Linked DNA regions of Homo sapiens. The protein of the gene in region 1 interacts with the protein of each later gene in a pairwise test. Each region holds a gene or a part of one and is shown in the gene's direction. Other genes may lie near its edges.

Region 1 (7,030 bases):
GAGTCGGGGCCAAAGGAAAACACCTGGAGCTGGGAGCAGTGAAGACATTGGGGAAGATGTTTTCCTCTGCAGACAGGAGGGCAATTCTTTAGTGGAGGCAGTATAAGTATTTAGGAAAAATAAGATCATGAGTCCCATGGAACATTTTTTGCCTTAATTAGCTTTATTTTAATTGTGTGGCTTTTCTCTGTAATATTCGTTTCAGCCTTTGTGTTGGGCACTAGACATGAGGCACGAGGCAGAACAGACATGGTCTCTGCTCTCATGGACTCTGCAGTTGAGTGGCAGGATAAATTTTAATCAAATGAGTATATAACTATTTGATGATGAGTTGTGGTGTACGCTGTAAAAGGTCATTTAAGGTGCTGTGATAGCATTCCACCCAGGGACCCAGGCAAGTCCCCCGGATAAATAGGGGCTGAGGGAAGGCGTTCCTGAGGAATGATGTTTGCTCAAAGACCTATAATGACCCCATTAATTGAATATTTGGAAGACAGAGGGAGGGCAGGCCCTGGGCTATCCTGTAACAGTATGTGGGCTACAGCCTGCAAGCCAATTGGTACACTTGGTAAAAAGAATTGTTTCTAAATTTAGAGGAAGTGTTGAAGCTTCTGGGAAGCAGGTGGTGACAATGACATTCAAAGAAAAAAATTGTTTTGTTTTGTTTTTTGAGATGGAGTCTCACTCTTGTTACTCAGGCTGGAGTGCAGTGGCACAGTCTCAGCTCACTGCAGCCTCTGCCGCCCAGGCTCGAGCGATTCTCCTGCCTCAGCTTCCCAAGTAGGGGACTACAGGCGCCTGCCACCATGATTGGCTAATTTTTATATTTTTGGTAGAGGTGGGGTTTCAGCATGTTGGCCAGGCTGGTCTTGAACTCCTGACCTCAAGTGATCTGCCCGCCTCGGCCTCCCAAAGTGCTGGGATTACAGGCATGAGCCACCATGTCCAGCCCAGTTTTTTTTACACTGTGTGAAAGTTTCTAAGATTTTAAAAAACTTTCATGAGAAAATGCTTGGGAAACTAAGATTGAAAAACCTTAGTCTTGCCATGTAATTTGGAATAATAATTATAGAATCATCTCTGTATCCTATAAAATAATACCATGCTTCTAAATGAAAGCCAGTGACCTGTGGGTCTCTGCACCTGTTGATGAGATTTACAGTCCTCTACAACGCCCTGTCTTTGATGCCAAACAAGGAATTCTCTCAAATTGTCCTCCCCGCACACAGTGTCTTGGTTGTGGTTTATGTTGTCTTTAAGCAGTAGGTACAGTCGGCTGTACAGGGGCTGAGTTCAAGACATTAGTTAGAGAGTATCATCAAAGAGGACATTCCATTAACGATAGCAACAGTAAAATATCCAAGGTTAAACCTTGTGGAAACCTCGTTAGTGGGGTGGAAAGGACTTTAAAACAACTAAAGGACTGAAAAGATATTAATAAATTTTTGGAAGGAAACTTCAATATGGTTAAAAATCTCCATTCTCCCTAATTATTCTATAAATCCTCTGAGTTTCCAATGAGAATATTAATAGCATGTATGTTTTCTGTAATGATACTAAGTAAAATGGTTACTAAAATTTGAGTGAGGGGGACATGCAGAACCCAGAAACTGTTTGAAAAAGAGAAGTAATACTGGAGCTATTGTATCCCACCCAAATCCCTTTGATCCTGGTCCAGGAGTAGACAGGCAGATCAGTGAACAGAAAAGATAGTGTGTGTGTAGGCAGACATACACACGTAGTTTAGGAGGTGATTTAGGTAGCATTTTAAATAAAATTGGAAATGATCATTTATTCAGTAAGTGTTGTTGGGATGATTTATTTCAAATAAATGAAAGATTTAAACACAAAATTGATTTGCCCCCATTTGCACGTAATACACTATATGTGTACATGAGTATATATACACACACATACACACACACTGGTACAATTTATCTCTGAGTTTTCATGAGGCTGGCTATCATAAACTCTTTCTTGCTTAAAATGTTTTCAATGAAAATTCCTAAAAGATTGCATTTTTAAAATTTGAGGTCTTGAAAGAAATTACAATTTAGTCAAATTATCAATAACGTAAAGATCTGTTTTGTAAAGGGAGACTCATGTATGTATTGAAAATAATAATATTTTTAAGGATCTTTTGTTTTCAGTATTTTTTTTTACATTACACCTCTGCTTTGTCTTCCTGTTTGAGATCTTTTCAGAATTTATCAGTGTCTCTGAGCATGTTAAAAGTCTGAGTGGGAGAGAAAGGAAGGAAAGGCAGTTGCTAAAATATAACTTGAAGAGAGAATAAATAGACAGGAAAGCTCACTTTTGTAATGCTGCTTGAGACCTGCAATTGTAATTACTGTCCTAACATTTGTGATTGATTTTTAGGAGGAAGTAATGGTTCTGGAGAGAATCTTACTGCAGACCATCAAGTTTGATTTACAGGTAGAACATCCATACCAGTTCCTACTAAAATATGCAAAGCAACTCAAAGGTAAGAAGAAAGTTTTCAGAAGAATTTTTTCATTCTGAAATCAAGTCTTTATAATTTGATGACACTCAAATTACGCTTCTCAAAAGCGGAAAACAAAGTTTGATGTGTGAAATACCAAGGGCATGGCTTGCTCAGTCAATTCAGCATTGCAGCTGCTAATGCTGTTTCCTTTTATGTATAAACAGGCTCTGTCATCCAGTTGCCAAGTGATGGGAGAGGCAGGAAAATGAGGCAGAATTTTTTAAATGGACTAATAAACTTAGCCTTGGAGCCAGGTTTTCCATACATGGTGGTTCAGCGTAGGTCATGAGGAGGAAGAAGGGGTAGGATGTGGACCCACATCATTCATCCTTGTTTCCCACGCAAAAGCTCTTTGCTGTGTATTTGAGTGGTGCTGAACACGTGGTAGGTTTTTAATAAATACTTGATGCTGCCTGTGAATTTTTCTATTGCTATTAATTTACCTTTTTGTCCCCATTTCTAGGTGATAAAAACAAAATTCAAAAGTTGGTTCAAATGGCATGGACATTTGTAAATGACAGGTATACATGTTCAAATGTTGATTAATTACAGTATTTTAAAATAGGCAGAGACTTTATGGACCATTTCATCTAAACCCCTCATTTTGTGTCAGAAGAAACTGACTTGCCCTGGCTTGAGGAGCCAGTTAATGGCAAAGCTGGGGCTGACGTCCAGGTCATCTGCTTCCCGGCAGAGGGTTTCCTTCTGCCCTGCCGTGTCATGGTGTTGTGAGGTGCTGAAATTTTATCACCAGTCTGAAACATAAGTCCAAAACAATACACTGGAGAATTTTGAAAACTAATTACTTAGAGCCCATTTGGTTTTGCAAAAATATACTTCCTGGTATAGTTTTAGAGCCTTAACACTCTTTTGAGAGGCCAGGGATCTAATGAGGGGCCGTGGTGGGAAACAGAATGCCTGTGAATGGAGTTGCTGCCAGCCCCATCCCACTGCAGTCAGTGAAGCTTCTCTTACATTTGACTTCCTCCATAAGATTTCATTTGAAGAAACAGTTGAGTGGCTAGGATTTCAACAGTTTAAATAACATAAGTCATTTTCATTGGTGTAGCAATTTTTGGATGTGCTAGAATTCTTCTGATTCTTTAAGGAATAGAGAAATTACTAACTATGGTTAAAGTAACTTAGTCGGGTACCTTTAGAAGAGTAAAGACTTGAGTTTATTTATTTATAGTACTTTAATTAAATTTAGGGGAGAATAAGCAAATTAATGGTTAGTTATGGCATCTCCATGCACTGGTTTAATCATAAATATTAGATCATATTATCTAACCTTTTTTTTTCTTGTTGAACTAGTCTCTGCACCACCTTGTCACTGCAGTGGGAACCAGAGATCATAGCAGTAGCAGTGATGTATCTCGCAGGACGTTTGTGCAAATTTGAAATACAAGAATGGACCTCCAAACCCATGTATAGGAGATGGTGGGAGCAGTTTGTTCAAGATGTCCCGGTCGACGTTTTGGAAGGTACCAGGCATGCTAAGCGTTCTCGTGAGGGTGTTCCATGTTGAGATGATTCTTCCATGTGTACCCTGAGTCCCAAGAATGGATTTTCCCAGATAGACATATGTGAGCAATATTTCAGAAGCATCATTAATTAAATTATCTAATAGTTTCCACTTTGTCCAAACACATACTTTTGGTAAACTAAAAATACACACCAGTGTTGCACACAACGAAGATGGGGTGAGTTGTAAATGTGATTCATGCTTAGGTCCTCGTAGGGGTATCATAACTGATTCTTTATCCAGGTAAAATTTTATTTAAAATACCAATTTGTGTAAAATGTAATTGTTGGCTATCATTTAGACATCTGCCACCAAATCCTGGATCTTTACTCACAAGGAAAACAACAGATGCCTCATCACACCCCCCATCAGCTGCAACAGCCCCCATCTCTTCAGCCTACACCACAAGTGCCGCAAGTACAGCAGTCACAGCCGTCTCAAAGCTCCGAACCATCCCAGCCCCAGCAGAAGGACCCCCAGCAACCAGCCCAGCAGCAGCAGCCAGCCCAACAGCCCAAGAAACCCTCTCCGCAGCCCAGTTCTCCCCGACAGGTTAAGCGAGCCGTGGTGAGTGGGCTAAAGCAGGCCCTGGGTAGAGCAGGCTTTCCAGGTGGCGGCAACACCTGAGCACTGTTCCCATTTCTAAGCGAGCACAGGGAACACCGGAAGCAGGGGGTGTTCGCCGAAACTCGCAGTCCGACTGCTTGTCGGTGGGGAGCCTGAAAACAAAGGTGCTCCAAGGACAGGCTGCCTCTGAGAACCAGGAGGGGGCTCTCTGCCCGGCTCCAGCCCTGCTGCCTGTTTCATCCCTGCCAGGGTTCTGAAGCCTGTCGGTGTCGTTGCCGTGTCCTAGCAGTGTCGTTGTGCATGCTGCTTCTGTGCAGCTGCCTGACCCCAAACAGTGGACCGTTTCCTGCACCCAAGTGGTCCTGAAACTTAGTGTTTACTCAGAACTCACCATTCAGGAAAGCTAGTCATTCTGTCTTATTTGGTAAATGGAAAGAGGAAGGGAGCAGAAATGATGATCTGGTAGGTGCCGTGGTTTGCCCTGAAAGTTCAGGCTAGAAATAATTTTTGTCCGAGGCTGTTCACAGTGACTGCCGTCGCTGATTCTGGTGGTACCTGGATAATCCATTTTTTTCTCATCATACTCAGGATCCCAGTTAACAATTGTGTATTTTCTTTTGTAACAGGTTGTTTCTCCCAAAGAAGAGAACAAAGCAGCAGGTAATTTCCTGTTCTGATGTTTTTTTAGTTTTATGTGTTTATATGCAAAACTTTAAATTCTTAGCCAACATTGTTTCTTTTCAGATCTAAATTGGCCTTAAATCTTAACTTTAGAGCTCATACAAAACTTTTCCATCAGCATTGTCTTTCTGTTCATCACCTGATCATAGATTCTAAAATTGTGCTCTTACGAAGCTATCAGTACAGAAAACATTACTGGCAATAAAAATGTACTCAGTAACATATATAAAAGTATAATTATGGCTGTAGGAGAACTGTTGCTGCAATTTTATTTTTAGAGACTATTTACCCCCATCACAGCAGCAGGAGTCCTCTCCCAAGCACCAAGCCACAGCAGATGCGGGGGGGCAGTAGGGGGTGGTGTGCTGCCCGGACAGCACCAGCCCGGCCCAGCCCAGCTGCCCTTGCAGGCAAGGCCTCTTTGAAACACACTTGGGTTGAGGTGCTGTCACATGTCTAGAACCCAAAGTTAGTTCATGTCAATATTGGAAATAAACAGAAGGAGTGAGCAAAATTGGAACAATTACAAAACAGAAAGTTAGAAATGTTTTGTCACAGGGTCAGTCCACCTATCATACTGAACTCTTTGAAGGCACAGACCCTATTGACTCATTTGTCTTTCTTTGTTACTTGGTTCTTAGTTCCAGTAGTTCCTGGTTCTTAGAACCATGTTCTCGGTTCTTAGTTCCATTCATTAAACTGCTGTGAAATCTTCCAGTTATGATAGAGCTACTTTTTTTTTTTTTCCAGTATATTTGAGGGAATGATGAGTTCAGTACAGGTGAATTTTTTTTTTTTTTTTGAGACAGAGTTTCACTCTTGTTGCCCAGGCTGGAGTGCAGCGGTGCAATCTTAACTCACCACAACCTCCGCCTCCTGGGTTCAAGCAATTCTCCTGCCTCAGCCTCCCGAGTAGCTGGGATTACAGGCATGCACCACCAGGCCTGGCTAATTTTGTATTTTTAGTAGAGACAGGGTTTCTCCATGTTGGTCAGGCAGGTGTCAAACTCCCGACCTCAGGTGATCTGCTCGCCCCAGCCTCCCAAAGTGCTGCGATTACAGGCATGAGCCACCGTGCCCAGCCTACAGGTGAATTTTTTAATTAGCTTCAAATTGACCGACATTAAATGTTAGACACAAGAACGGGCTACACTCCATGCCACATGAAATGCAATTGAGTTGACGTGCAGGTCTGTCAGAGGCAGGAAACAAACTATATATGACCTTGAAGGAAGAGTTGCATTTGAGCAGCGAGAGCAGAGGGGGAGGATGGAGCAATAAGTTGGAAGTACGCAAGTGAGCAAAGGAATTGAGAATCAGGGGAAATGGAGAGGAGTCTTTCTGGAATGTGATGAATTGAAAGGCAATAGCTTCTGATAGGATCTAAAATGTGGGTTAGGACCAGATCACAGAGTTTACCTGGAGGACTGTGAGTTTGGCAGAGGCAAGGGAAGCCATTGGAGATTTAGCAGGGGAATGGCAGAGTCTAAATTCATTTGAGAAGGAGTCCCCTGGCAGCAGTAAATAGGGCAAGTGGTTAGGAATGGGGAGAATCTTGCTGGCACTCATGGGAAACATGGTGGCCTCAGCATGCTGGCTGCGGGGCAGGAAGGGCAGATCCGGAGGAAGCTTTATAGAGGAACTCAGCTGCACTGTGCCATGCCGAAGGCTACTGGCTGCAGAGGGCTGCAAGCACTCGAAATGTGACTGGGTCAAATTCTGAAGCACTGACAATGCAAAATACACAGAGA
Region 2 (5,689 bases), on another chromosome or scaffold:
ATAGACCTTAAAATAAAAATTGTAAGACGAAACAAGGTCATTATATAATGGTAAAGGGCCAATTCAGCAAGAGAGTATAACAATTATAAATATATACACACCCAAAATAGGAGCAAACAGATATATAAACCAAATATTATTAGGGATAAAGCAAGAGATAGACCTCAATAAAAGCATTTCAGCATTGTACAGATCTTCTGTACAGAAAAGCAACAAAGAAACATCGAACCTAATCTGCACTGTAGACCAAATGGACCTAATTGATATTTACAGAACATTTGATCCAGCAGCTGCAGAATACACATTCTTCTCTTAAGCACATGGACCATTCTAAAGAATAGACCATATGTTAGATAACAAAACAAATCTTAAAACATGCAAAAAATGTGAAATAATATCAAGCATCTTCTCTGACTGCAATGGAATAAAATTAGAAATCAATAACAAGAGGAATTTTGAAAACTATACAAATACATGGAAATTACACAATATGCTTCTAAATGACCAGTGGTTCAATGAAGAAATTAAGGAGGAAATTGAAAAACTTATGAAAATAAATGGTAACGAAAACACAGCTTACCAAAACCTGTGGGATAAAGTGAAAGCAGTATTAACAGGGAAATTTACAGCTCTAACTGCCTATATCAAAAAAGAATCAAACTTTCAAATAACTAACCTAACAATGCATTTTGAAGAACTAGAAAAGCAAGTCTAAACCAAACCCAAAATTAGTAGAAGAAAAAAAAATAATAAAGATTAGAGGAAAAATAAATAAAATGGAAATGAAGAAAACAATACAAAAGATCGATGAAATGAAAGTTTGCTTTTAGAATAAACAAAATTGACAAGCTATAGCCAGACTAAGAAAAAAAGAGAGAAGATCTAAGTAACTAAAATCAGTTATAAAAAAGAAGACATTATAATTGATATTATAGAAATTCAAAGGATCTTTAATAGCTGCTATGAGCAAATATATGCCAATAAATTGGAAAATCTAGAGGAAATAGGCACATTCCTGGACACATAAAACCTATCAAGATTAAACCATGAAGAACTCTGAAACCTGAACAGACCAATAACAAGTAATGAGATCAAAGTCATAGTAATTAGTCTTCCAGTAAAGAAAAGCCTGAGACTCGATGGCTTCACTGCTGAATTCTACCAAGCATTTAAAGAGAATTAATATGAATCCTACTTAAACTATTCCAATAGATAGAGAAGTAGGAAGTACTTCCAAATTCATTCTACAGGGATAGTACTACCCTGTTATCAACACCAGACAAAGACACATCGAAGAAAGAAAAGTACAGGCCAGTGTCTCTGATGAATATAGGTGAAAAAATCCCCAACAAAATACTAACAAATGATATCAAAGAACACATTAAAAAGATCATTCATCATGACGAAGTGGGATATATTCCAGGGATGCAAGGACAGTTCAGTATACACAAATCAATCAGTGTGATGTGTTGTATCAACAGCATGAAGGACAAAAACCATATGATCATTTCAATTGATGCTAAAAAAAGCATTTGATATAACAACATTCCTTTATTACAAAAATGGAGGGCCGGGCACAGTGGCTCATGCCTGTAATCCTAGCACTTTCAGAGGCCAAGGCGAATGGATCACTTGAGGTCGGGAGTTGGAGACCAGCCTGACCAACATGGAGAAACCCTGTCTCTACTAAAAATCCAAAATTAGCCAGGTGTGATGGCGCAGGCCTGTAATCCCAGCTACTTGGGAGGCTGAGGCAGGAGAATCGCTTGAACCCGGGGGGTGGAGGTTGCAGTGAGCCGAGATCGCGCCATTGCACTCCATCCTGGGCAACAAGAGCCAAACTCCATCTCAAACAAAAAAAGGGGGGATGGAGGAACTGAGAGTTTTTTCTCTAATATCTGGAACATGAGGAGGGTGACCACTTTGACCATATTTATTCATAGTACTGGAAGTGCTAAACAGAACAGTGAGACAAGAGAATGAAATAAAGTACATCCAAATTAGAAAAGAAGAAGTCAAATGTCATTGTTTGCAGATGATGTAATTTGACATTTAAAAACACCTAAAGATTCAGTCAAAATTATTAGAACTGATAAACAATTCAGTAAATTTGCAGGATATAAAATCAACATACACAAATCAGTAGCATTTCTATATGCCAACAGTGAACAATGTGAAAAAGAAATTTAAAAAGTAATCCCTTTTACAATAGTGACATGTAAATTTAAACACTTAGAAATTAGTGCAACCAAATAAGTAAAAAACGTCTACAATGAAACTATAAAATGCTGATGAAAAAATTAAGAGGACACAAAAAATGGAAAAAATATTCCATGTTCATGGATTGGATCAATATTGTTAAAATGTTCATACTACCCAAAGTGCTCTAAAGATTCAATGCAATCTTATTAAAATACCAAAGACACTCTTAACAGAAATAGAAAAAAAAATTCTAAAATTTTTAAGGAGCCAAAGAAGACACAGAACAACCAAAGTTATCTTGAGGAAAAAGAACAAAACGAAGGATCACATTACCTTCAAATTATATTACAGAGCGATAGTAACCAGTAACAGCACGGTACTGTAATAAAAACAGACACATAGACCAACGGAACAGAAGAGAGAACCCAAAAACAAGTTCAGACACCTACTCATTTTTGACAAAAGTGCCAAAAACATACACATGGGAAAAGACAGTCTCTTCAATAAATAGTGCTGGGAAAACTGTACATTCATGTGCAGAAGAATGAAACTAGTCCCCTATCTCTCCCCATATACAAAAATCAAATCAAAATGAATTAAAGACTTAAATAAAAGTAAACTATGAAACTGCTATAAGAAAACATTGGGGAAACTCTCTAGGGCATTGGTCTCAGCAAAAATTCCTTGAGTAAGATTCCACAAGCACAGGCCACCAAAGCAAAAATGGACACATAGGATTACATCACGTTAAAAAGCTTCTGCACAGCAAAGGAAGCAATCAACAAAATGAAGAGACAACCCACAGAATGGAAGAAAATATTTGTAAACTATGCATCTGACAAGGGATTAATAACCAGAATATATAAGGAGCTCAAACAAATCTGTACGGAAAAAAAAAATCTAATAATCTGATTAGAAATGGACAAAAGAACCAAATAGATGTTTTGGAATCCTCATTCGCTATTAGTGGGGATGGAAATTAGTACAACCACTATGGAGAACAGTTTGGAGGTTTCTCAAAAAACAAAGAATGAAGCTACCATATGACACAGAAATCCCACTGCTGGTGCTAAACTCATCTTTAGCATCAAACCTAATCTCTAGTCCCTGACACCATGAGCTACTACAGCAGCTACTATGGAGGCCTGGTATACATCCAAAGGAAGGGAAAACAGTATATCAAAGAGATATGTGCACTCCCATGTTTGTTGCAGCACTGTTCATAATAGCAAAGATTTGGAAGCAACCTAATTTTCCACCAACAGATGAATGGATAAAGAAAATGTGGTATGTATACACAATGGAGTACTAGTCAACCATAAAAAATAATGAGATCCTGTCATTTGCAACAGAATGGATGGAACTGGTCGTCATTATGCTAAGTGAAATAAGTCAGGCACAGAAAAACAAACTTTGTATGTTCTCACTTATTTGTGGGAGCTAAAAATTGAAAACAATTGAACTCATGGAGATAGAGACTAGAAGGATGGTTAACAGAGAATGGAAAGGGGAGTAGGTGGGTGCAGGGTAGGGGTGGGGAGGGATGTGAGTGATGGAGGAGTAGGGGTGGTTAATGGGTACAAAGGAATAGAAATGATGAATAAGACCTAGTATTTGATAGCACAAAAGTGTGGCCATACTAAGTTATACTCTCTTAGTTATTTTAAAATGTATAATTAAATTGCATTTAAATTAAATTATTGATTTAATCGAACATTTTAAAATAAGAGAGTGTAATTGAATTGCTTTAACACAAAGGATAAATGCTTGAGGGGATGGATACCCTATTTATCATTTACCAGTGATTATTACTCCATTAACCAGTGATTAGTATGCATTGTCATGTCTGTATAAAAGTATTTCATATACCCCATAGATATATATACTCTACTATGTATTCTTAAAAATAAAATTTGAAAAAAGAAAAATAATATTTAATGGAACTTCATGGGAAAAGTGTATGCAGAGGAAAAGGTACACTTTTGAAGTTAATGGATGAATAAAAAATTGGGAAGAAGCCTAACAAAAAATTGGCAGAGGAAGCTAATTGAAGGTTTCTCATAGAAATTAAGGCAAGAAAGCTTTACAAAAGAATGAATGGATGGAAGGTTAGCAATGTCAAAGGTCAATTAAAGTTCAAATGAGTCAAAAACCAAGGTTTCCTCTAAATTTGACTACTGGAAATCACTAATGACTTTGTGACTATGCCCTGACTACCATGAAGAGAAGTCCTTGGGTTCTGGGAATGAAGTAACCAAGACGATGGACTGCAAATTAAAAAGAAAAGCAATATGAGGTTATGTAATTACAGCGTTACTGGAAGCTATCAACCCGATTAGACCATTTTAATTACAACACCAGCCTGGCCTTTGAAGTGGCTATAATCATTTTTCATCTTCAAAATATTTTGTTCTTAGGAATGCAAACTAAAGACTAAAAGTCTTTAAATAATAGTTTGGACCCTTTGTTACATAAGAAAAGAAAAAAAATAAACAATTGTTAGACTTAAAATTATTCTGTTATGTGGAAATAAGATCACCTGTCATTGTTGTTCATGACACCCACTACTTAGAGTATAAAATCATTCTGAGAAGTTAGAGACACCTACACTCAGGAAACTCATCATTAGCATTGAACTGAATCTCTAGTCCCTGACACCATGAGATACTATGGCAGCTACTACAGAGGCCTGGGATATGGCTGTGGAGGCTTTGGTGGTCTGGGCTATGGCTGTGGCTGTGGAGGCTACAGATATGGCTCTGGCTATGGAGGCTATAGATATGGCTGCTGCCGCCCATCATGCCGTGAAGGATATGGATTCTCTGGATTCTACTAAAAAACTTGCTGATTCTCATACTCTAACTCCAAGATCTTGCCCGTATGCTTCAGCAAGGCGAACACTTTTCTCAATGTAGAGAAAATACCTACCATTTTTTGGCTTCATGCTCCAGAAGGAACTAGCCATCAGTTTTTATGGAAGAATCTGGAATCATTACATTGAATCAGGGTTTCACCTATTATTATTTAGTCACTGACATCTGTTGTGACATGTATTTTAAAATAGTTTTAAATAAACACGTTTAACTTGAATAGCAAACATGGCTTTATCAATTCATTTTAGTACATTTCAAATGCATTGATGAGACTTCAATCAAGCTGTTTGTCTTCTTTCCTCTGAATTGGTGTTTTTATTTCAACAGTTTTGCCTCAATAATATATTTTATTCAACATATATTCATTGTGTGTCTCCAAATTTGGGCACCATTCTAAGTCCTGAAGATATAAAAGAATAAGATGGACAAAATCACTGTGTACTTTCATCTGTCTTTACTTTTTATCTGTTTTCAGTGGTTTTGTGTGTGATTTTGTTTTTAGAATATGATTATGTACACTATTATTTTTATGACTTAGTTTTAAACAATAACTTATTGCAATCTTCATTCCAATTAGTGTGTTTGTATTCTGAGGTTTATCTCAAAGCACAGTA
Region 3 (7,030 bases), on another chromosome or scaffold:
AAAAAGTTAGCTGGGTGTGGTGGCAGGCGTCTGTAGTCCCAGCTACTCAGGAGGCTGAGGCAGGAGAATGGCGTGAACCCGGAAGGCGGAGCTTGCAGTGAGTTGAGATCGCACCACTGCACTCCAGCCTGGGTGACAGAGCGAGACTCCGTCTCAAAAAAAAAAAAAGACTTAGTTGTTCCAAGTTATTTCCTCCTCTCTTAAATCTTTCTTGTGGGCACAGAGGTAGCAAACGACCAAATAAAAGCAATACAAGATTCCAAGGGGCAACTGATTGAAAATATGTATCCATATCACTACACTGGTGATACTTGAATATGCATAAGGATTCTCATATGCTATCATGTGAAAACAAATTTTTGTTAGCTCTCCATGCATTTGACCTAGGTTTTTTTTTTCTAAGCATATCTTCAAACTTAATTTACCTGCTTAATTCATCTCTGGCTTCTAGCAATTTAGTTGCTTATATCCTTTAGAATCTGACTTTTGCTGTCATCAAATCATGCTCATGTATTTGCATACTATGGGCATGAAGCAGGGCAAGTTACATAAAAGAGCCCAGCTCTCCTGGTTTTCCCAGTGATTAGTATTAAGGAACTATGAAGTGTAATCTCTGGATGGAGCCAAGTTTCGTGAAGATGGGTTGGGGATAGGAATGAGAATCAAAGTTGAAATGCCCTTTAAATGATCCACAATTAAGGAAAGCTTGGAACTGGGTCTTAAAGCCATATAAAATCAGACCTCTTGTGGGCAAAGTCTGGAGTATCCAGGATAATACCAGATGTACTGAAAATCAGACTTTATTTGATATGTGTTGCTAAATAAATAAAAGGAAAACTCTGTCTTCAATTTATGAGAGTGAAAGTATATGGCTACCTGACATTTTTATATAATCTTTAAAACTTTTGCCTTTAAAAAGTTACCTAGAAACATGTCATTAGTCCTTCTGGGTCACTGGGGAAGATTAGGAGTGGGATTGAGATTGGTCATTGCTCAGGAGACATTGTAAATTTGGATGCTCCCAGCTTCTCTGCATTTATCTTTTTTTTTTTTTTTTGAGACAGTCTTGCTCTGTCGTCCAGGCTGGAGTGCAGTGGCGTGATCTCGGCTCACTGCAACCTCCTGGGTTCAAGTGATTCTAATGCCTTAGCCTCTCAGTAGCTGGGACTACAGGCACATGCCACCATGCCGGACTAATTTTTGTATTTTTAGTAGAGACAGGGTTTTGCCATGTTGGTCAGTCTGGTCTCGAACTCCTGGCCTCAAGTGATCTGCCCGCCTTAGCCTCCCAAAGTGCTGCAATTATAGGTGTGAGTCACTGCACCTGGCCCTTCTCTGCATTTATCTACTGGGAGGTTCCTACACTGAAATCAGATAGCCTATGCCCTACAGCTTCTGTTCCATGGGTACTCTAAATTTGTGGCACTCCCAAAGGGAGATTAGGTAGGTTCTCAGGAGGGTGGAGGTTAGTCTCAGATACCAGCTTACCCCAATTTCCTTGTTTTTTCAGGACACCTGACTGATAGTGAATGTAATCAGAAACACACATCCAAGAAAGGGTCACTGATAGAGCGCAAGAGGAGCTCTGGTCGGGTTAGGAGGAAAGGCGATGAGCCCCAGGCCTCGGGATACCACAGTGAAGGCAAGCCCTTCTGCACTGCTTCTCTTTCTCCTTCATTCACTCTATCAAACTTCTGTCATGCTCCAGACTGTTGGCTTCTCCTTTCTGTTCAGAGGGCTTTTCTTTGCTTTTTCGACATTGGGGTCTAGTATCCATGATCACTTTAAACATCTATATTTCTTTCATTCTTTGTGTTTTTAGGAGAAACACTGAAAGAGAAGCAGGCTCCTAGAAATGCCTCCAAACCATCCAGCAGCACCAACAGGCTGAGAGATTTTAAAGAGACAGTCAGCAATATGATCCATAACAGACCATCCCTGGCTTCTCAGACCAATGTAGGCTCTCACTGCAGGGGCAGAGGAGGAGACCAGCCTGACAAAAAACCTCCTAGGACCCTGCCTTTACACTCTCGTGACTGGGAAATAGAGAGTACCAGCAGTGAGTCAAAATCCAGTTCTTCCAGCAAGTATCGTCCCACATGGAGACCCAAACGAGAATCTCTGAATATTGACAGTATCTTTAGTAAGGACAAAAGGAAGCACTGTGGCTATACCCAGCTTAGCCCCTTTTCTGAGGATTCAGGTGAGGAGATAATTAGGGAAGAATTGGGCTTTTGAATAAAGTTGATTTATGTCTTTTTAAAACCTGGGTTTTTTGGTACATCTGGCAAGGGGCACTTTTACTCTGATGTCGGGTGTTTTAGGGATATGAGTTCAGTGAATAAGTAGCTAGAGGGAGGAGCTAGTTAGGTCTTGATTTTAGGCAAATGCTAAATCTACCTCATTTTCCATACCTGTCTTTTGATTGGGATAGCTAAAGAATTTATACCAGATGAACCAAGCAAGCCACCTTCTTACGACATTAAATTTGGTGGACCAAGCCCCCAGTACAAGCGCTGGGGCCCAGCACGGCCAGGCTCTCACCTTTTAGAGCAGCACCCCCGACTAATCCAGCGAATGGAATCTGGCTATGAAAGCAGTGAGAGGAACAGCAGCAGCCCTGTCAGCCTGGATGCAGCCCTGCCTGAGAGCTCAAATGTCTACAGGTATTGTTTGGCCTTTGAACAGCAACATTGTCTCTTGCAGCAATGTGAGCCACCTACTTGGGGCTTTCAGGCATGGCTGAGACAAGTGGAGGGATGGCCTTTGCTATTATCTCTATGTGCTCTTTCAACTTCCTATAACAACAGCACCCTCTGCTGGAAGAACAGAGGCACTTGAGAAAGGAGAGAGAACTTTCTATTTGAAATACAGTTATCATGTATAAAATAATTTTAAAAAATTAGGTTCAGGGGGCATATGTGCAGGTTTGTTAGGATAAACTTGTGTCATAGGAGTTCATTGTACAGATTATTTTGTTACCCACATATTAAGCTAGTACTCACTAATTATTTTTCCTGATCCTTTCTTTCCTCCCACCCTCCACCCTCCGATAGGCCTGTGTCTGTTGTTCCCCTCTGTGTGTTCATGTGTCCTCACCATGTAGCTCCCACTTATAAGTGACAATATGCTGTATTTGGTTTTCTGTTCCTGTCTTAGTTTGCTAAGGATAATGAAATAATTGTTTAGTGCTTGCTTTGGTAGCACATATACTAAAATTGGAACAATACAGAGAAGATTAGCATGGCTCCTGCTCAAAGGTGGCACAAAAATTTGTGAAGATTTCTGTATTTTTCAGATATGTAGGATAAACAAGTCTAGGGATCTAATGTAAAACATGACTACAATTAATAAAATTGTACTGCATATGAGATTCATGGTAAATGAGTAGATTTTAACTCCTCTTGCCACAAAAACAAAAAAAATGGGTAACTATATGAGATGATGGGTATATTAATTTCCTTCAATTATAGTAACCATTTTACTGTCTCTATGTATCTCATAACATCATGTTGTATACCTTAAATATACACAGTAAAAAAATGTATTAAAGAACAGATTAGGTCAGGCATGTTGGCTCACGCCTGTAATCCCAGGCTAGCACAAAAATTAGTGAGGCATGGTGGTGGGCGTCTGTAATCCCAATTACTTGGGAGGCTAAGGCAGGAGAATCGCTGGAATCCAGGAGGTGGAGGTGGTAATGAGCCGAGCTCGTGCCATGGCAACTCCAGCCTAGGCGACAGAGCAAGGCTCCATCTCAAAAAAAAAAAAAAGAAACAAAAACGGACTAGGCCTGCCGCAGTAGCTCACGCTTGTAATCCCAGCACTTTGGGAGGCCGAGGCGGGTGGATCACGACGTCAGAAGTTCGTGACCAGCCTGGCCAACATGGTGAAACCCCGTCTCTACTAAAGATACAAAAACAAAAATTAGCCGGGCGTGGTGGTGGGAGCCTGTAATCCCAGCTACTTGGGAGGCTGAGGCAGGAGAATTACTTGAACCCAGGAGGTGGACGTTGCAGTGAGCCAAGATCGTGCCATTGCACTCCAGTCTGGGCAACAGAGTGAAACTCCATCTCAAAAAAACAAACAAACAAAAAAAGAATGTATTAGTGGGCCAGGCGCGGTGGCTCATGCCTGTAATCCTAGCACTTTGGGAGGCCGAGCTGGGTGGATCACAAGGTCAGGAGATCGAGAACATCTTGGCCAACATGGTGAAACCCCGTCTCTACTAAAAACACAAAAATTAGCTGGGCATGGTGGCGCGCACCTCTAGTCCCAGCTACTCTGGAGGCTGAGGCAGGAGAATCACTTGAACCCGGGAGGCGGAGTTTGCAGTGAGCCAAGATCACGTCACTGCACTCCAGCCTGGGTGACAAGAGCGAAACTCCATCTCAAAAAGAATGGATTAGTGAATTAAAACTTATGTAATACTAAAATCAGAGAAGAAGCCCAAATGTTATTTTGGGACAGTGTTTTGTTGTCGTTGCTTTTTTTTTTTTTTTTTTTTTGGTATCGATGGGGTTTCATCATTTTGCCCAGGCTTGTCTTGAACTCCTGGGCTCAAGTGATTTACCCACCTCAGCCTCCCAGAGTACTGAGATTATAGGTGTGAGTCACCACACCCAGTATGGTGGGATAGTTTTTATTTTGATTTGTTTTAGGGTCACTGGGACTTTGTGTTTTATAATGCTAATAATATTCATAATAATGATGACAGTTTATTAGCACTCATTGTACCCTGCCCATAGGGCTCAGTTTGCTTTATAACTTTCAAATCTCCATACATTATTTTTACTGAGTTGCCACAGAGGCAATTTTTCTGTTTTCTTTTTTTTTTTTTTTTTTTTGAGATGGAGTGTCTCGCTCTGTCACCAGGCTGGAGTGCAATGGCACGATCTCGGCTCACTGCAACCTCTGCCTCCTGGGTTCAAGCGATTCTCCTGCCTCAGCCTCCCTAGTAGCTGGCACTACAGGCGCCCACCACCACACCCAGCTAATTTTTGTAATTTTAGTAGAGATGGGGTTTCACCATGTTGGCCAGGATGGTCTTGATCTCTTGATCTCATGATCCGCCTGCCTCAGCCTCCCAAAGTGCTGGGATTACAGGCATGAGCCACTGTACCTGGCCAAGGCAATTTTTCTAATAGTAGAGCTGCTTTGAAAAGCATGATTATATCTTCTACAAAGGTGATAACCACATGTTCATACTCTGTCAATGTTCTTCCCTGTCCACAGGATCCTGTTGAGTTTTACTTATGAGAAGATGCTACAAAGGTTTAGTAAGAAAGAAGGAAATAAATATGAAACCAATATGTTCATTAGTACATTCAACAGATTTTGAATATGTATTATGTACCAGATACTGTGCTAGATGCACAAGTTGTGAATGAGGTGAGATGAGGTTAGATAGGAGAATGAGTGGATATTTCAATTCTTCAGAAGTAGTTTAGCAGAAGCTCTAATTGTGTAGTTTGATTTTTTTTTTTTGAGAGAGAGATTTAGTCCTAGGAATGTTGCTATAACCTGCTTTCATGCTTTCACTAGACTCTGAGTTCTCTTTTGAAGGGATCCAAGTGCTAAGAGATCAGCTGGGTTGGTTCCTTCCTGGCGTCATATCCCAAAGTCGCACAGCAGTAGCATCCTGGAGGTAGACTCCACAGCATCCATGGGTGGCTGGACAAAGAGTCAGCCTTTCTCTGGTAAGCAGAATGACACTGAATTTGAGGACTGGATTTGACCGGCAGTTTTGTCTGGGGACCAGACTTACCTGAGCACATTTGAAATTAGAGGACAGTTACAGGCCGGGCGCGGTGGCTCACACCTGTAATCCCAGCACTTTGGGAGGCCGAGGCAGGCAGATTGCCTGAGCTCAGGAGTTCGTGACCAGCCTGGGCAACATGGTGAAACCCCGTCTCTACTAAAATACAAAAAATTAACCAGCGTAGCGGCGTGCACCTGTAGTCCCAGCTGCTCGGGAGGCTGAGGCAGGAGAATTGCTTGAACCTGGGAGGCGGAGGTTGCAGTGAGCCAAGATCGTGCCACTGCACTCCAGCCTGGGCGACAGAGTGAGACTCCATTTCAAAAAAAAAGAGGACAGTTACAGTTTGAGTATTCCATCAGAATGTAAATGTAGAGTCATTTCAGTTGCTCCATCTTTGGATTTATCTATTTTTTGTTCTCCATCACAGCCTGCATGAATATTTCTTTCTACCTGGAGGGAGCCCTTGTGGGAGCAAGAAGGGACAGAAATATGGTGAACAGTGTTACTAACATCCCCATTCTTCAGAAGAATAAATCCTAGGGCTTTCCTTGGATTAGGGACAGCCTCTTGGGAAATGGATTTCTTATTGTTTAGTATTATGAATTGACATACCAAAGGGGTACATGTGGCTATTTGCAAAACTTGGAAATAAGCAATTCAAATTTATCCTTACCCCTGGCTAAATATCTTAGTCTTACTACCAATTCTCTTGATAGTTACTGACAATTCTTAGAGGTAGCAGGAAGAAAGGCCTGCAGCAGCAGTAGTAAAAAGGCATGAACCCTTTTAGGTATGTATACTAAAGGTTGTGGACATCTGGCAGAGCAGAACAATGCCTATAGAGGCAGATATCTCTGGAATCCTGGGCTCTAGTAAGTTATAGTTAGAGACACGTGGAAGACATTTGGGCTTCCCATTGTAATTATACATTTGATTTATTCCCCACATTTTAATTTATTTCATGTTGAATAACATTGTTTCAAGAAACTTGTGAATCGTGCATGAGACTATTCTCCCTTCTCTTCAGATAGCCAGCATTTTTTTAATTACACTAATGACTGAGTCTCATGATCTCCTGAATAGTCCTCAATTCTGGACCAGTTGGATAGAATTCACCAACAGCGTTCTTCAACTGGTAAAAGATAATTAGCAAGGAGTTATGACAAGATTCTTCACACACCATATCACCCCACCATCCTGTTTGTATAATAAGCCCTATTTATGCGCCACAATTTGATCTAACCATTTTATTAAGACACAGAACAAACA
Region 4 (7,030 bases), on another chromosome or scaffold:
GAGTCTTGCTCTGTCGCCAGGCTGGAGTGCAGTGGCGCGATCTCGGCTCACTGCAACCTCCACCTTTGGGATTCAAGCGATTCTTCTGTTTCAGCCTCCCAAGTAGCTGGGATTACAGGCGTGCACCACCACACCCGGCTAATTTTTGTATTTTCGGTAGAGACGGGCTTTCGTTATGTTGGCCAGGCTGGTCTCAAACTCCTGACCTCAAGTGATCCACCCGCCTTGGCCTCCCAAAATGCTGGGATTACAGGCGTGAGCCACTGCACCCAGCCCCGGTTTTTTTTTGTTTTTGTTTTTGTTTTTAATGGTAGCAACAAATGCACATTTTAAAAGAAAACTAGAGAAAAATTGGTGGCGGCCAAAGCATCCCTAACCCGGCACACTCTTCTCCGGTGGAGCAAAATGCCAGGTTCCTGGGGTATCCTAAGATCCATGTGCATTTATGGGATGCTTACTGTATGCCAGGTACTGTTCTAGAACTTTTCTTGTCTGAATTCATTGACTCTTCTCCACCCCACCCTGCGAGGTTGTTAGTGGTACCTCACAGAGGAGGAAATGAAGCCCAGAGAGGTAGTGGAGTTTGCCTAGAGTCACACAGCAGGGAAGACGAAGGGCTGAGCTTTGAACCCAGTCCGAGAGGGGGTGGGGATGGCAGAAGCAGGTAAGCCACAGCCAGGTCCGCAGGGCCCCTGTGCTGGGTTGGATTTAAGTAGGTTAAAGGACACCTCCCCCACCACCATCACCAGTTCTTTTCCTGGACTGGGAGGCCCTCCTGCCTGCTCTCTTCCCTCCGGCCATGACGCCCTCATGGGGGCTTTGAGAAACGCCCCACAGCTCATCCTTCCCGGGAGGGCCTGTAGGAAGCTCTGGTGTCAGCCACCCGGACTGGCCAGGTGGAGTGGGAGAAATGGTGTGTTTTGTCCCAGCTAAAGAAAAAAGGCTGTTAGGAAGGACTAAGAGGGAGCTGAGGGGTCTGCCTGGGAAGTCCAGGCCCCCCATGAAGCTAGGGTCCCCTTGGGAAGTCCAGCCGGGAGCCGCCTTGCAGCCCCAGACCCTCTCAGCCTCTTTGTACGTTCTATTTGGGTCTGGAAAATTTTCCCCTGTGGTTGAGAGCTTGGGCTGCTGCTTGGCTGTGTGACCTTGAGCCAGTTCCTCACCCTCTCTGGGTGTCCACTGTGTCATCTATAAAAGGAGCGTGACAATGACGTTGCGGGCCTCGTCGGGACCGTGAGAGGTGAAGGCTCGTGAGACTCTCAGAGCTAGCGTTACCGTGCCCCCTCTAACTTCTGTTGTTCCTATAATGTTACTATAATGTTGCTTATTTCCCCCCAACCAGATCTGCAAGGGTGGTTTCATCACCCCCTTCTTACAGTCAGGGGCCCTGATGCTCTCCCCTCCCCGCAGCATCACAGAGAGCTCAACTCTTACCAACTTCCCTGCCCCTCAATTCAATGTCCTCAGCCCCTATGAAAGTTTACGGCTTCATTGACCAGGCACGGTGGGTGGCTCATATCTGTAACCCCAAGCACTTTGGGAGGCCGAGGAAGGAGGATTGCTTGAGCCCAGGAGTTTTTGAGACCAGCCTGGGCAACATAGGGAGACCCCCGTCTCAATTTAAAAAAAAAATTATTGCTTGACCCTCTGAGAATTGGCTGATCTTGCCCTTACAGGGGACTTGGAGCCTCAGTTTCCTCCCCTGGATAACGGAGGGTGGGGGGCTCCCGCCCAGCCGCCACTAACCACCCCATCTCCCCCCTGTGCCTCCTCAGCCTCAAGCTCGAATGTGACAAGTTGGCCAGTGAGAAGTCAGAGATGCAGCGTCACTATGTGATGGTAACGTCACTCCGCCCCCAGGTCCAGTGTTGGGGGCGGGCGACAGGGCCCTCCACATCCCCTCCACCACGGGCAGCTGCTCCCTCAACCCCGGCCACCTCCCCTGGGAAGCGCGAGGATCGGGGCCTGTTCTCCATTCAGCCGGCCCCTGCTGGGCTGAGCCTGCCTCGCTAGCCTGGCAGATGGCCGAGGCAGTGGCCGAGGTGCCAAACCGCCGGGTTGCAGACCGGCCCTGCCAGGTCCCCCGGCTGTCCTTGGCAGCGGAGGAGGGAGGAGAGGGAGGCTCACCGGCTGTGAAAGCCAACAGCCAGGAACTGACGTGGGGGAGCAGCCGAGTCCCTCCCCACCGCCAAGGTCCCAGCGTCCACACGCTTAACCCCTTTGGGCCCGAGCTCAAAGAAGAAGCCTGTGGGAGGGGGTCTGAGCCCTACCCATTTCGGGGGGCTGATGTGTGACACTGCATTGCTGCTGCCAGAACCACTTGCTCGGTTTTGTAACTGCCAGGTGACGATTTCTGCATCAAAAATCCCCTCCCTTACCCACCCTTGGCCTGGCCCTCGAGCAGCGATGCTGGGGTCTCAGCCCAGTACCCAAATCTCCCAGACTGTGGGGGAGGCAGAGCCAGACCCTGACCCTCCCAGCCAGAAGAATAGGGCTGGGGTCAGAGAGAGGGACCTAGGACCTGCCTGAGGAAGACTATATGGAGAAATGGGGCACACAGCTGGGGTCTTGCAGGATGAGTAGGAGTTCACCAGACAGAGACAGAGAAACTACGTGAAGGCCTGGGAATGAACTTGGTTTTCCCCCAGGGGTGACAGGGAGCCATGGGAGGGTTTAGAGCAGGGGAGGGGCAGGGTGAGATCTGGGGCTTGGGGTGGGGGTAGCTGCTGGCCCCAGAGCCAGCAGGCTTTGTTTACCCCTCACTGTTTATACCTAGGCAGGCAAACTTCCCTGGCGTCTGGGCCCACCCGCAGACAAGACATAGAAAGATACAAGATTAGGAGCCCTGGAATGCGTGTTCTCGCGGTGCACATGGAGTGGGGGAGGAGCCAGGCCAGGGCTAGGGACCTAAAGTGCCCCCAGTCTCCATCCGCAGCCCCAGCGGCCCCCTGCCCCTCTCCAGGGCGGGCTGGGATGCTGGGTGTGGGCGTCTCTCCCTCCTCTTTCCCTCCCACCTGCCTCTCCTTTCTTTCCTGCCCTCAGCTGTCTCTTGCTGTCTCCCCCCTTTGTCTGTCTCTGCCACTCCCCTATCTCTTTGTCTCCGTGTCCCCCCATCCTTCCCCACCCCCATCTCCCGCTCCCCCTCTCTCTCCCCCATACAGTACTACGAGATGTCCTACGGCTTGAACATCGAGATGCACAAACAGGTACGCCCATCTCCTCCTCCTCCTCCTCCTCCTCCTCCTTCCCCCTCCTCCCCCCACCTCCAGCCCCGCCTTGGGCACCCCCAGGCAGGTAGCGGCCGGCCCTCGGCTGGGCACCAAGCCAGCCCGGTTATCCTGTTACCTCCTAAGCCCTCCCCAAGCTCCCGCTCTCCTCCCCCCCGCCCCGCCTCTTTTTCAGGCCTCCCTGGGAGTGTTTCTCCCGGTGGTGGGGAGGGGCAGAGACCTTCCCCACAGCCTACGGCCCCCAGCCCTCCCTACATTCGCACAAGCGCTTACTACCTGCCAGGGGCCTGAGTGGCCGACCCCCGAGGAATGTGCAGTCTGGCCTCATCCTGCACTTACCTCACTCTAAGCTGCAGGCGACAGCCGGTGTCCAGCCCCACCTTTGCCACTGACTGGCTGCCCTCGGGCCCGAACACGGCTTTGCTCATCCCACCCTGGCCAGACCTAGCCCCTCTTAGAAGCCGCAAGTGGCAGGGCTGGGCCGGGCCCCGCGCAGGCCTCCTGTGGCTAGCCTGCACCTGCCACCCGCCCAGGACTGAAGCCGGCTTCATCTGTGTGTTCCAGGCTGAGATCGTCAAAAGGCTGAACGGGATTTGTGCCCAGGTCCTGCCCTACCTCTCCCAAGAGGTAAGAGCCAGGGCCTTGGGGAGGGGTTGTGAGGGGGCCCCGCACTTGCCCAGCCCCTGTCCACTGCAGCCATCTTGGGTGGTGTGCTGGGCGCCCCAGGGCACACGCCTCCCCTCTCTGGACCTCCCTGGCTCTGAACACCAGAGCCGGCCTGTGCAGAAGAATCCCCGGGCCAGAGACACTCCAGGGGTGCAGGCGTGTGGGGGGCGGGCCTCACCCTGCTCTGGAATTCCCAGCTGGAGTGAGTCATGTCATAGGTAGAAATGTCAGATGGGCCTAAACTGCACCAGGAATGTTTTTTTCTCATCTCTCTTCCTCCTTTCACCCTCTTGAGACATCCTCCTCCAGGCCATGCGGGCTGCACAGGACCAAGGACTAGAGGGTGTTAGGGGATTGTGGGGGAAGGGGTAGCACAGGGTGGTCACACATGGACACAGCCACACAGATAGGCACGAGCACATCAACACACGGGAGATACACAGATGCAGACACGGATACACGTGTGTGCAGACAGCACAGGGACACGCATGCAGGAATGTGCAGCTACACGTGGGCACACGTGATCCTGAGCACACATTACCACATGCACACACACACCCAGATGAACCTGACGCCCAGCTCCTCTTCTCCTTTCTTGGGTTCTGAGGCTCAGGATGCGAGGCCGCCCCTCCCCAGGGCCATGTAAGGCCCATCTCCTGTCCCTGCCAAGTTTACTGTCAAAAGTTTGTAACTTCCTCTTCAATCCCTGTGGGTATCTCAGGATCCTTTGGGTGCCCTGCTTTGCCCAGGGACAAGTCTTAGCAGGACCCAATGAAAGCCCTAGAGAAAAGGGCACTTGGAGCCCTTCAGAACAGAGGCTTCCTGGTAGCCAAGGCAAAAAGGGAGATTGGTAGATTCTAGCATCTGCTGGCCACAGAGTCAGGTGTTTGGGGAGAGCTCAGGGAGGAACTGCCCTGAATCTGAGCCCATTCCCCAGCCAGCCCTGCCAGAATTCATTGGGCCCTCCCCAGCCATGGTAGGAGAAGGGCTCAATTTGGCCAGACTCAGGGCACAGTCTTGGAGCTCCTAGGATCAGGACGTCCCTGTACAGTTGGGCAGGTTGTGTACTGCACAAACATTCACATGTTTCACATCTTTGCAGGTGGCTGTGCACATAGGATAGGTCAGGATCCAGGGTTTCTCCCGGGCTCACTCAAAAGCTGTTTCCTAACTACTTAGCACAAAACCCTTTTAATTGTTTTCTGCACTTTTCCATTTGTCTCTGTTGGCCAGACGAAGAGACGAGCTTGGTGAAAGGAAGCAGTTGGAGAGAGGGAGGGTGCTTTCTGATGGGGTTGAAAACCACTGGGAGGAGCAGACATGATGGCCCACTTGGTAGTGGGGCTCCTCCTGGCCTCAGGGCCGTCCCCCTCTCCTCTCCCAGGATCAGGAGGAATCACTGCCTCTCCTCTCCCCCGACCCCCTTCCAGCACCAGCAGCAGGTCTTGGGAGCCATTGAGAGGGCCAAGCAGGTCACCGCTCCCGAGCTGAACTCTATCATCCGAGTATGTATGGGGACCTGGGCGGGTGGGCGGGGGACAGGTGGGCCCCAGGCAGCTAATGTTCCCCTCCCCCGCCCTGCAGCAGCAGCTCCAAGCCCACCAGCTGTCCCAGCTGCAGGCCCTGGCCCTGCCCTTGACCCCACTACCCGTGGGGCTGCAGCCGCCTTCGCTGCCGGCGGTCAGCGCAGGCACCGGCCTCCTCTCGCTGTCCGCGCTGGGTTCCCAGGCCCACCTCTCCAAGGAAGACAAGAACGGGCACGATGGTGACACCCACCAGGAGGATGATGGCGAGAAGTCGGATTAGCAGGGGGCCGGGACAGGGAGGTTGGGAGGGGGGACAGAGGGGAGACAGAGGCACGGAGAGAAAGGAATGTTTAGCACAAGACACAGCGGAGCTCGGGATTGGCTAAACTCCCATAGTATTTATGGTGGCCGCCGGCGGGGGCCCCAGCCCAGCTTGCAGGCCACCTCTAGCTTTCTTCCTACCCCATTCCCGGCTTCCCTCCTCCTCCCCTGCAGCCTGGTTAGGTGGATACCTGCCCTGACATGTGAGGCAAGCTAAGGCCTGGAGGGTCAGATGGGAGACCAGGTCCCAAGGGAGCAAGACCTCGCGAAGCGCAGCAGCCCCGGCCCTTCCCCCGTTTTGAACATGTGTAACCGACAGTCTGCCTGGGCCACAGCCCTCTCACCCTGGTACTGCATGCACGCAATGCTAGCTGCCCCTTTCCCGTCCTGGGCACCCCGAGTCTCCCCCGACCCCGGGTCCCAGGTATGCTCCCACCTCCACCTGCCCCACTCACCACCTCTGCTAGTTCCAGACACCTCCACGCCCACCTGGTCCTCTCCCATCGCCCACAAAAGGGGGGGCACGAGGGACGAGCTTAGCTGAGCTGGGAGGAGCAGGGTGAGGGTGGGCGACCCAGGATTCCCCCTCCCCTTCCCAAATAAAGATGAGGGTACTAAAGTTGTCTTGGTTTTTATTTTATTATTATTTTTTTCTTTTTCCAGTATACTAGCTTGTCTTTTAAGAAAGGGGATATTAAAAAAAAAAAAAGACAAAAGTGTTTTTAAAAAAAAGCAACACCCACACCTGTGTCTGTATATAGTCAGCTTATCTCGTGTTCAATCGTCTGATCTCTACAGAGAGAAGTGGAAAATGCTGTATCAAGGGTGGGCTTAGCTGTGCCTTTCCAATAAAGATGTGAGAAGCTTCGGTGCTGTGTCCCTGCCTCTGTGTTGTGGCTGCCCCCGGGGGAGGACGGGGTTCCTTCCAATGTGAGACATCCTCCTAGAACATCAGGAGTTCCTAGCTGTGGCCCGGTGCGGTGTGGCTCACGCCTGTCATCCCAACACTTTGGGAGGCTGAGGCAGGCAGATCACTTGAGGCCAGGAGTTCGAGACCAGCCTGGCCAACATGGTGAAACCCTGTCTGTACTAAAAATACAAAAAAGCTGGGCGTGGTGGTGGGCAACTGTGATCCCAGCTACTTAAGAGGCTGAGGCAGAAGAATCACTTGAATTCAAGGAGGTTGCGGTGAGCTGAGATCGCACCACTGCACTCCAGCCTGGGCAACAAGAGCAAAACTCCATCTCAAAAAAAAAAAAAATACAAAAAGTAGCCGGGCATGGTGGCGTGCAC

The links.
Region 2: the proteins of CCNK (region 1) and KRTAP19-6 interact in binary tests that used the Homo sapiens proteins (3 or more experiments, as listed by UniProt).
Region 3: the proteins of CCNK (region 1) and USP54 interact in binary tests that used the Homo sapiens proteins (3 or more experiments, as listed by UniProt).
Region 4: the proteins of CCNK (region 1) and TLE5 interact in binary tests that used the Homo sapiens proteins (3 or more experiments, as listed by UniProt).

The regions. Positions count from the first base shown.
Region 1 is NC_000014.9:99,498,387-99,505,416, forward strand, and holds part of CCNK (cyclin-K), read left to right. Parts: intron 1-1,803; exon of another isoform or gene 1,804-2,379; coding exon 2,380-2,485; exon of another isoform or gene 2,486-2,969; coding exon 2,970-3,027; exon of another isoform or gene 3,028-3,820; coding exon 3,821-3,990; exon of another isoform or gene 3,991-4,332; coding exon 4,333-4,598; exon of another isoform or gene 4,599-5,224; coding exon 5,225-5,258; exon of another isoform or gene 5,259-7,030. UniProt on the Homo sapiens protein: Regulatory subunit of cyclin-dependent kinases that mediates activation of target kinases.
Region 2 is NC_000021.9:30,541,006-30,546,694, reverse strand, and holds KRTAP19-6 (keratin-associated protein 19-6), read left to right. Parts: upstream 1-4,830; 5' UTR 4,831-4,861; coding exon 4,862-5,038; 3' UTR 5,039-5,160; downstream 5,161-5,689. UniProt on the Homo sapiens protein: In the hair cortex, hair keratin intermediate filaments are embedded in an interfilamentous matrix, consisting of hair keratin-associated proteins (KRTAP), which are essential for the formation of a rigid and resistant hair shaft through their extensive disulfide bond cross-linking with abundant cysteine residues of hair keratins.
Region 3 is NC_000010.11:73,525,316-73,532,345, reverse strand, and holds part of USP54 (ubiquitin carboxyl-terminal hydrolase 54), read left to right. Parts: intron 1-1,510; coding exon 1,511-1,642; intron 1,643-1,822; coding exon 1,823-2,203; intron 2,204-2,434; coding exon 2,435-2,666; coding exon of another isoform or gene 2,667-2,841; exon of another isoform or gene 2,842-3,157; intron 3,158-5,565; coding exon 5,566-5,699; intron 5,700-7,030.
Region 4 is NC_000019.10:3,052,485-3,059,514, reverse strand, and holds the end of TLE5 (TLE family member 5), read left to right. Parts: intron 1-1,772; coding exon 1,773-1,836; intron 1,837-3,158; coding exon 3,159-3,203; intron 3,204-3,788; coding exon 3,789-3,851; intron 3,852-5,320; coding exon 5,321-5,395; intron 5,396-5,474; coding exon 5,475-5,696; 3' UTR 5,697-6,605; downstream 6,606-7,030. UniProt on the Homo sapiens protein: Transcriptional corepressor. Acts as a dominant repressor towards other family members. Inhibits NF-kappa-B-regulated gene expression. May be required for the initiation and maintenance of the differentiated state.